Linked DNA regions of Homo sapiens. The protein of the gene in region 1 interacts with the protein of each later gene in a pairwise test. Each region holds a gene or a part of one and is shown on either strand. Other genes may lie near its edges. The genes, in order: SLF2 and CBS.

Region 1 (3,846 bases):
ACTCCTGGGCTCAAGTTATCTTCCCACCTCAGCCTCCTGAGTAGCTGGGACTATATAGGCACACACCACTGCACCAGGTTAAAGTGAATTTTTTTTTTTTTTTTTGAAACGGAGTCTTGCTCTGTTGCCCAGACTGGCGTGCAGTGGTGCCGTCTTGGCTCAGTGCAACCACCACCTCCCAGGTTCAAGCGATTCTCCTGTCTTGGCCTCCCAAGTAGCTGGGAGTACAGGCACGCACCACCATGCCTGGCTAATTTTTGTATTTTCAGTAGAGACAGGGTTTCACCATGTTGGCCAGGCTGGTCTCAAACTCCTGACCTCAAGTGATCTGCCCACTCCGGCCTCCCAAAATGCTGGGATTACAGGTGTGACCCACCGCACTCAGCCCACAATATGAATTTTTAAAAACTGGTTCATTCAAATGTATGTGGTTATTAAAGTACTTCTGGATGGGGCTATAATAAATATAGCTTATATTAGTTTCCTAGGGCTGCCATAACAAAGTGCCAAAACCAGGGTGGCTTAAAACAACAGGAATTATTGTTTCACAGTTCTGGAAGCTAGAAGTTTGAAATCAGGATATCAATAGGGCCGTAATGTCTCTGGCAACTCTAGGGGAGAATACTTCCTTACCTCGTCTAGCTTCTGGTGTTTGCCTGCAATCTTTGGCATTTCTTGACTTACAGCTGCATCACTCCAGTCACATAGCATCTTTTCCTTGTGTATTTTCACCTTGTATTCCCTCTGTGCATGTCTGTCTTTGTCTCCAAAGACAAAGACACCTTTTGTAAGTACACCAGTCATACTGCATTGGGACACAGCGTGATTTTTTTTTTTTTAATGAGAAATTAACATTTATCTGCCTTCAAGTGTTTATCCTATACGTGTTTTAAGGTACTATACATTTAAATGTAGAAGTGTTACATTTCTGCAACCAGGTAGTCCTAGGTCTAAAAGAATTTCCAGAAGTACCTATGGCATCCTTAACTTGGTACAAATATGCAGTTGTTTGTTTTAGGGAGTGGCATCTTTAATTCTGTTAAGGTGGTAAACTTTTCATAGCTTTGGAATGAAAATGAGCATTTGTCATTAGCTTTAAATTTCTTGGACACCAGTATTTATCCAGTTGATAAGTAACTCTTTTTCTGCATTCCATATATGGTGACTAATCTCAGCCTTAATACTTAGAATTTTAAACCTTTCATTAGGGTGTTCTAGACACTGAATAAACTTTACTAAAGTTGGAAAGTATATTTTTCACTAATCTAACAAAAATTAAATTTTAGCAGGCTCTAAGCAGAATAAATTCCCTGAAAAAAGAAAAAGGAACTCTGTGGACTCAGATCTGAAAAGCACAAGAGAATCTATGATACCAAAAGCAAGAGAGTCCTTCCTTGAGAAGCGTCCTGATGGACCACATCAGAAAGAAAAATTTATAAAACATATTGCACTGAAGACACCTGGTGATGTGTTGCGCTTAGAAGATATATCCAAGGAACCGAGTGATGAAACTGATGGCTCTTCTGCAGGCTTGGCACCTTCAAATTCTGGCAATTCTGGCCACCATTCTACCAGGAATAGTGACCAAATCCAAGTGGCAGGTACCAAGGAGACTAAGATGCAGAAACCCCACTTACCTTTATCTCAGGAAAAGTCTGCAATTAAAAAAGCTAGCAACCTTCAGAAAAATAAAACCGCTAGCTCCACGACAAAGGAGAAGGAGACAAAACTACCTTTACTTTCCCGTGTTCCAAGTGCTGGTTCCTCTCTAGTACCATTAAATGCTAAAAATTGTGCTCTTCCAGTTTCTAAAAAAGATAAAGAGCGTTCCTCATCTAAAGAATGTTCTGGGCATTCTACAGAATCCACCAAACACAAGGAACACAAAGCAAAGACTAATAAGGCCGATTCTAATGTATCTTCAGGGAAAATTTCTGGGGGACCTTTGCGCTCAGAATATGGCACTCCTACAAAGTCTCCCCCTGCTGCTTTGGAAGTTGTGCCATGTATCCCAAGCCCTGCAGCACCTTCAGATAAAGCCCCTTCAGAAGGAGAGAGTTCAGGAAATTCCAATGCAGGTAGCAGTGCACTGAAAAGAAAACTAAGGGGTGATTTTGATAGTGATGAAGAAAGTTTAGGTTACAACCTAGACAGTGATGAGGAAGAGGAAACATTAAAGTCACTGGAAGAAATAATGGCTTTGAACTTCAATCAGACTCCTGCAGCTACAGGAAAGCCTCCTGCTCTTTCCAAGGGGCTTAGATCTCAGTCATCAGACTATACAGTAAGTAGTTCTGTGACGTTTATCTTTACTTGAAGAGGGAAAGATGATTAATTAGTGAAAGGGGTGGATTATCGGAACTTACTTTAAAATTTAGTATTTATTATAACTCATATTTGTACTGAAAATGGAATAATTCTTGTTTGGTAAATGAGTTTCCATATCTTTAGTTTTATTACTGTAAGTCAGTGGTCTCCAAACTCTTTTGATCACACACACTTAACAATTTTTGAGCATGTACCCCAACATATATGTATACCTTTAGATTATATATATGTACCACTGTAATACTGTGTACTTTCTAAAGCATATGCAAAAACAGAATTTAAAAGGAAGAAGAAGAGAAAAATAAGTATTTTCCTGTAGAAGTGACGTAGAAGTTACTATAGACTAAGTTCTACTGGAGTCTCTATAGAAGTTCCATATAAATAGAAGTTCTATTATTTTCTTCCTGCACCCCAATGGATCACCTTGCACACCCCCTGCTTTGGAGACCACATCTGTAAATGAAGGTAGAGTGTAGAAATGTTGTTGATTGTGGTGTGCAATTTTATTTATAAAGTGCTTCATTCTATCTTGGGAATAAGCTGAATTAAATTCTAAGATGTCTGTAAAATTTGGTGGGGAAGGTGTTAATATTCCATGGTAACACCTAAAAATTAGTAGTTTGATTCTACTAAAATAGAATTTAAAAGTAAAGACAGGGTAGCCACAGAGTCCTTGAGTGTTTGCAGTCACATCTCAAAGTTAGCAGGGTTTTATAAGTACTGCCTTTCCTAATAGGTAGTAAAATCAAATTGTCTGCAGTGCAAAATACTAGATTTAAAGCATGATGGTGAAAATTATCCTTTAAGAAAGGTGTTATCCTGGCCCAGATTATTGAAATAGAAAATAGTCTTTCGTACCCTTAATTACTTAAAACATCCCAGTTCTTCTACTAAGACATGTGGTAAAGTATTTCTAAATGTTCTTGTTTTAGGGACATGTTCATCCTGGAACTTACACAAATACCTTAGAACGTCTAGTGAAGGAAATGGAAGACACACAAAGGTTTGTTAGCATAAAGATTAATTTGCTAAATTTAACATTTTGCTTGTTTGTGTGGCTTACTTTTAATTTACCTTTTTTAAAAAATCATGAGAAATTAGCGTGCATTTTGGACTCTGTTGTCAACTGTGTTAGAATAAGATATGTTGGCCGGACGCAGTGGCTCATGCCTGTAATCACAACACTTTGGGAGACCCAGGCAAGATTACTTGAGCCCAGGAGTTCAAGGCTGCGGTGAGTCGTGATGGCGCCACTTCACTGCAGCCTGGGTGGCAGAGTGAGACCCAGTCTCAAATGAAAAAAAGAGGCCAGGTGTGATGGCTCATGCCTGTAATCCAGTACTTTAGGAGGCCAAAGCAGGCAAATCTCTTGAGCCCAGGAGTTTGAGACTAGCCTGGGCAACATGGTGAAACCCCATCTCTACAAAAAATACAAAAATTAGCCAGTCATGGTGCCACATACCTATGGTCCCAGCTACTCAACAGGCTGAGGTTGGGAGGATCACCTGAGCCCAAGGA
Region 2 (3,780 bases), on another chromosome or scaffold:
TCTCTCCCCTGACCTCCAGGTGGGCCCAGGACAGCCTGCACACAAAGGGTGGGTGGGCTGAGGTCTGAGGGCCTGGAGTGAGCACGGCAGCCCTGCCCCAGGCTGCTCAGGGACCGGCAAGGGGCCTCCAATGCCCTGAACGTCTGTATGAGGCGGCCCAGGCGGGCCTATCAGCCCAGCTGCAGGGTCTGCATGGCTGCCCTGTCCAGTGACACTGACGGGGTGGAGCTGGGCAGACAGAACCCAGGACTGAGCTCTGAGCAGGGGCTGAGACTGACCCCGCCTCATCCACCACGGGCGCCTGGTCGAAGCCCTTCTCCCGGAGGATCTCGATGGTGTGCCCACAGGTGATGGTCGGGAGCACGGTCAGCGGGGCTGACAGGCCCAGCTCCTGAACACGGAGGTGCCACCACCTGAGGGAAGAGGGCAGGTCGGGGGGATCAGGATAAGGACAAACGCTCTCGCACCCCCGCCGGCAGCACCTCAGCAGGAGGCCACAGGGACCGCTCTCCTGCCTGTCACACTGGGCAGGGCCAGCACAGGCCACGGGGACCGCTCTCCTGCCTGTCACACTGGGCAGGGCCAGCACAGGCCACGGGGGAGTGCTCTCCTGCCTGTCACACTGGGCAGGGCCAGCACAGGCAGCGGGTCTCCGGCCGAGCGGTCTTACCAGGGCTTCTTCTCCGTGAGGTCCTCCTCCTTCAGAAAGCCCTTCTGCAGCATCCACCTGTCGCTCAGGAACTTGGTCCTGCGGGATGGGGGAGTCACCGAGTCCCCGCAGGGCCCCACCGGGCCCCCGCCCCTGCTGAGTGGCACGCACTGCCTGCCCAGCCCCTCTCCTGGACCTCACTGGTGCAGCAGAGACCCCCAAGTGCTGGCTGGAAGCCCCAGGGGGAAGCCTGGGGGCTGGACTTCCCGCCCCCATGGCCAACAAGCGTGTGTGAGCATGCACACAGCCATCGCTCAGGCACTCAGATAAACACGTCCTCTCATGCTCGCTCTCTGCCCCTCACACACTCACACGCACAGGTACACATGGCAGGCTGGCCAAGTATGTGGGGAGATGGTGTTCTTGCACTGACGGGGGTGGGCAGGAGCCCTGCACAGGGCATCTTGACCCTGGGCACCAGATGTGAATCACCCCACACTGGGGAACCCAACTGGGGGCACCCACCAGCCAGGCCTGGCCCTCCAAGGGCAGCTGAGCTCTCGGGAGCTGTGTAGCCGCTGCAGCTTGCAGGCCATGGAGGAAACCCTGCAGGTGCAGGGGACAGGGCATGGGGGTCTGTAGACACCCGCCCTGGTACCGCCTCCGGAGACCAGGTGCAGAGCAGCGCCAGTCTCAGCCTGGCTGCCCGGTGACCAGCGAGGTCTGTGGCGTTACTGTCCGAGGGGCCTCTGGGCAAAACAGTCACAGCAAGTCCTAGGGGGCCACCTGGGCAGCACTCGGTCCCAATCTGGAGTTTGGGGGAAGCAGCAGAGGGAGTCAGGGTGGATAGGAGGTGGCACAGGGCCCGGCCCAAGAGGACGTCAGTCCATGTGGCCAGGGCTACCCGTTGGAGCTCACGGACCCCAGAGCAGTGAGGGGGACAGACACCAGAGAGGAAGGGACAGGAGGGACAGAGAGGGAGCCACCGTCTTTCATGCCCCTCCTGTCAGGGCTGTCACTGCGAGTGTGCATTGATTTTCACAGCATTAAGAGGCTGGGAAGCCCCACAGCGTGAGGGCACGTGGGCAGGAGAGTGGAGGCGGTGCTCACAGGGCCCCGCTGGCCTCCTCCCCTCCCAGTTCTGGCTGCCGGTTCTCAGGTGAGGCGTGAGAGGCATCCAGGGAAGGGTGGCAGGATGGAGAGGAGCAGGGACCTGGGAGGGAAGCCGTGTCTTACATGTAGTTCCGCACTGAGTCGGGCAGAATGACCACGCAGCGCTGGCCCTCCTGCAGCTCCTGCGCGGCCTTCACGGCCACCGCCACCGTGCTGCCAGCACTGCCACCTGCAGAGAGGGCCACGAGTCAGACGCGCCAGGGTGAGCGTGCGTGGGTGCACACGTATGCATGAATTGTGCACGTGCACGCATGGGAGCATGTCAGACACACTCCGAAGGATCCGTCAAGAGGGGTTGCCTCGGGGAGAGGGGCTGGGAGGACCCCACTTCTCCGTGAGCATCGGCTTCTTCCTTGTGCACCATGGAGTTTCTGTGTCCACTCGGGGCTTCATAATGAGCTGGGGTGGGCACTGGTGCCAGGGAAATGCCTGCAGTGGGGCTGCGGCCCCTGGCAAACCTCCTGGCCCTGAGCCTAGAGCCAGCGATGCTACGAGGACGGAGCCCCCAGCACCACGCCTGCAGGCTGCCTGACTGCACACTGGGCTCTGCTTTATAAACAAGAGACCAAGGCTCACAGTGACACCAGCTGTCCCTAGGAGCCCTGAAGTCAGAGTCAGAGGCGTCTTCTCTGGGCTTAGTTTGAGGGTGCACACAGCAGTCGGGAAGGTCTAAGTCTGCAGTAGGAGCCCCCACAGGAAGAGAGGCACCCTCCTCTGTAACGGGGCCCATGGACCTGCTTTCCAGCCCCAAAGGCAGGGGCTTGTTTCTCCACCAACATGGGGAGCAGGGAGACTGAGACAGGGAGAGCCCAACGATTATGGGCACCAAGTCACCTTTCGTGACAGATTCATCTGGAAAATGCTTTTCTTTTCTTTTTTTTTTTTTTGAGATGGAGTTTTTGCTCTTATCACCCAGGCTGGAGTGCAATGGCGTGATCTCGGCTCACTGCAACCTCCACCTCCCAGGTTCAAGCAATTCTCTTGCCTCAGCCTCCCGAGTAGCTGGGATTACAGGCATGCACCATTACATCGGCTACTTTTTTTTTTTTTTTTGGTATTTTTAGTAGAGACGGGGTTTCTCCCTGTTGGCCAGGCTGGTCTTGAACTCCTGACCTCAGGTGATCCACCCGCCTCGACCTCCCAAAGTGCTGGGATTATAGGCATGAGCCAACGCGCCTGGCTGGGAAATGGTTTTTCAATCAAGACTTTCTTCCAATCTCTAGTTTGGGGCTCAGCTAACGGGGGACTTGGCCATGCTGAGGGCTGGTTTCCTTCCACTTTCCCTGTCACCACCCCCAAAGTGACATGACACACGGAATGCACATGTAGAAACCTCACATGTCCCTGCCTGCGTTTTAGAAGCTGGTGTGTGCTCTCCGAGTCCCCAGAGGTCTAGATCAACTGTGGTCCCTACAGGGCCTCTGCTGCCTGTGTGGCTAGTCAGTGGCATTGCCAGCGGCCACCTGGTCTGTCCACCCCCAAGCAGGTGGGCAGAGGGGCACGGGGTAGGAGGAAGGTGAGCGGGGTCGAGCTGGACAGCCTCAGGCTCCAGTCCCCTCCCCAGCTGCTCCAGGGTGCTCGCAGCACCCAGTCCCGGCCATGGGCCCCGTCAATGCAGAGCCACCGCCCCAGGGGCCCTGGTGGACTTGATTAGAAACAATAAGTGCCATGAGAGCTTCAGCCTTGTTCTAGAAACACATTCTGGAAGGCAGCTCGAAGCCCCGCCCCATGGCCTCCTGCCCTCACCTGAGCAGGTGACCACACTGGGCAGGCAGACAACACCTGAGGCTCGTGGCCGCCGCAGTGACACTCCTCAGAACTGCTGTCTTACACATGCAGGTCGGTGGCTGACTGAGGGTGCGCCCCCAGCCATCCCCAGTGCCCCCTAGCCATCTCTGCCTTCCCCATACCCCCGTGCCCGCCACCCACTCACCGCACAGCAGCCCCTCTTGCGCGAT

What was found.
Region 2: the proteins of SLF2 (region 1) and CBS interact in a two-hybrid assay, tested with the Homo sapiens proteins (one large-scale study listed by BioGRID).

The regions. Positions count from the first base shown.
Region 1 is NC_000010.11:100,922,689-100,926,534, forward strand, and holds part of SLF2 (SMC5-SMC6 complex localization factor protein 2), read left to right. Parts: intron 1-1,286; coding exon 1,287-2,284; intron 2,285-3,260; coding exon 3,261-3,331; intron 3,332-3,846. UniProt on the Homo sapiens protein: Plays a role in the DNA damage response (DDR) pathway by regulating postreplication repair of UV-damaged DNA and genomic stability maintenance.
Region 2 is NC_000021.9:43,058,556-43,062,335, forward strand, and holds part of CBS (cystathionine beta-synthase), read right to left. Parts: coding exon 3,756-3,780; intron 1,992-3,755; coding exon 1,886-1,991; intron 749-1,885; coding exon 671-748; intron 414-670; coding exon 279-413; intron 1-278. UniProt on the Homo sapiens protein: Hydro-lyase catalyzing the first step of the transsulfuration pathway, where the hydroxyl group of L-serine is displaced by L-homocysteine in a beta-replacement reaction to form L-cystathionine, the precursor of L-cysteine.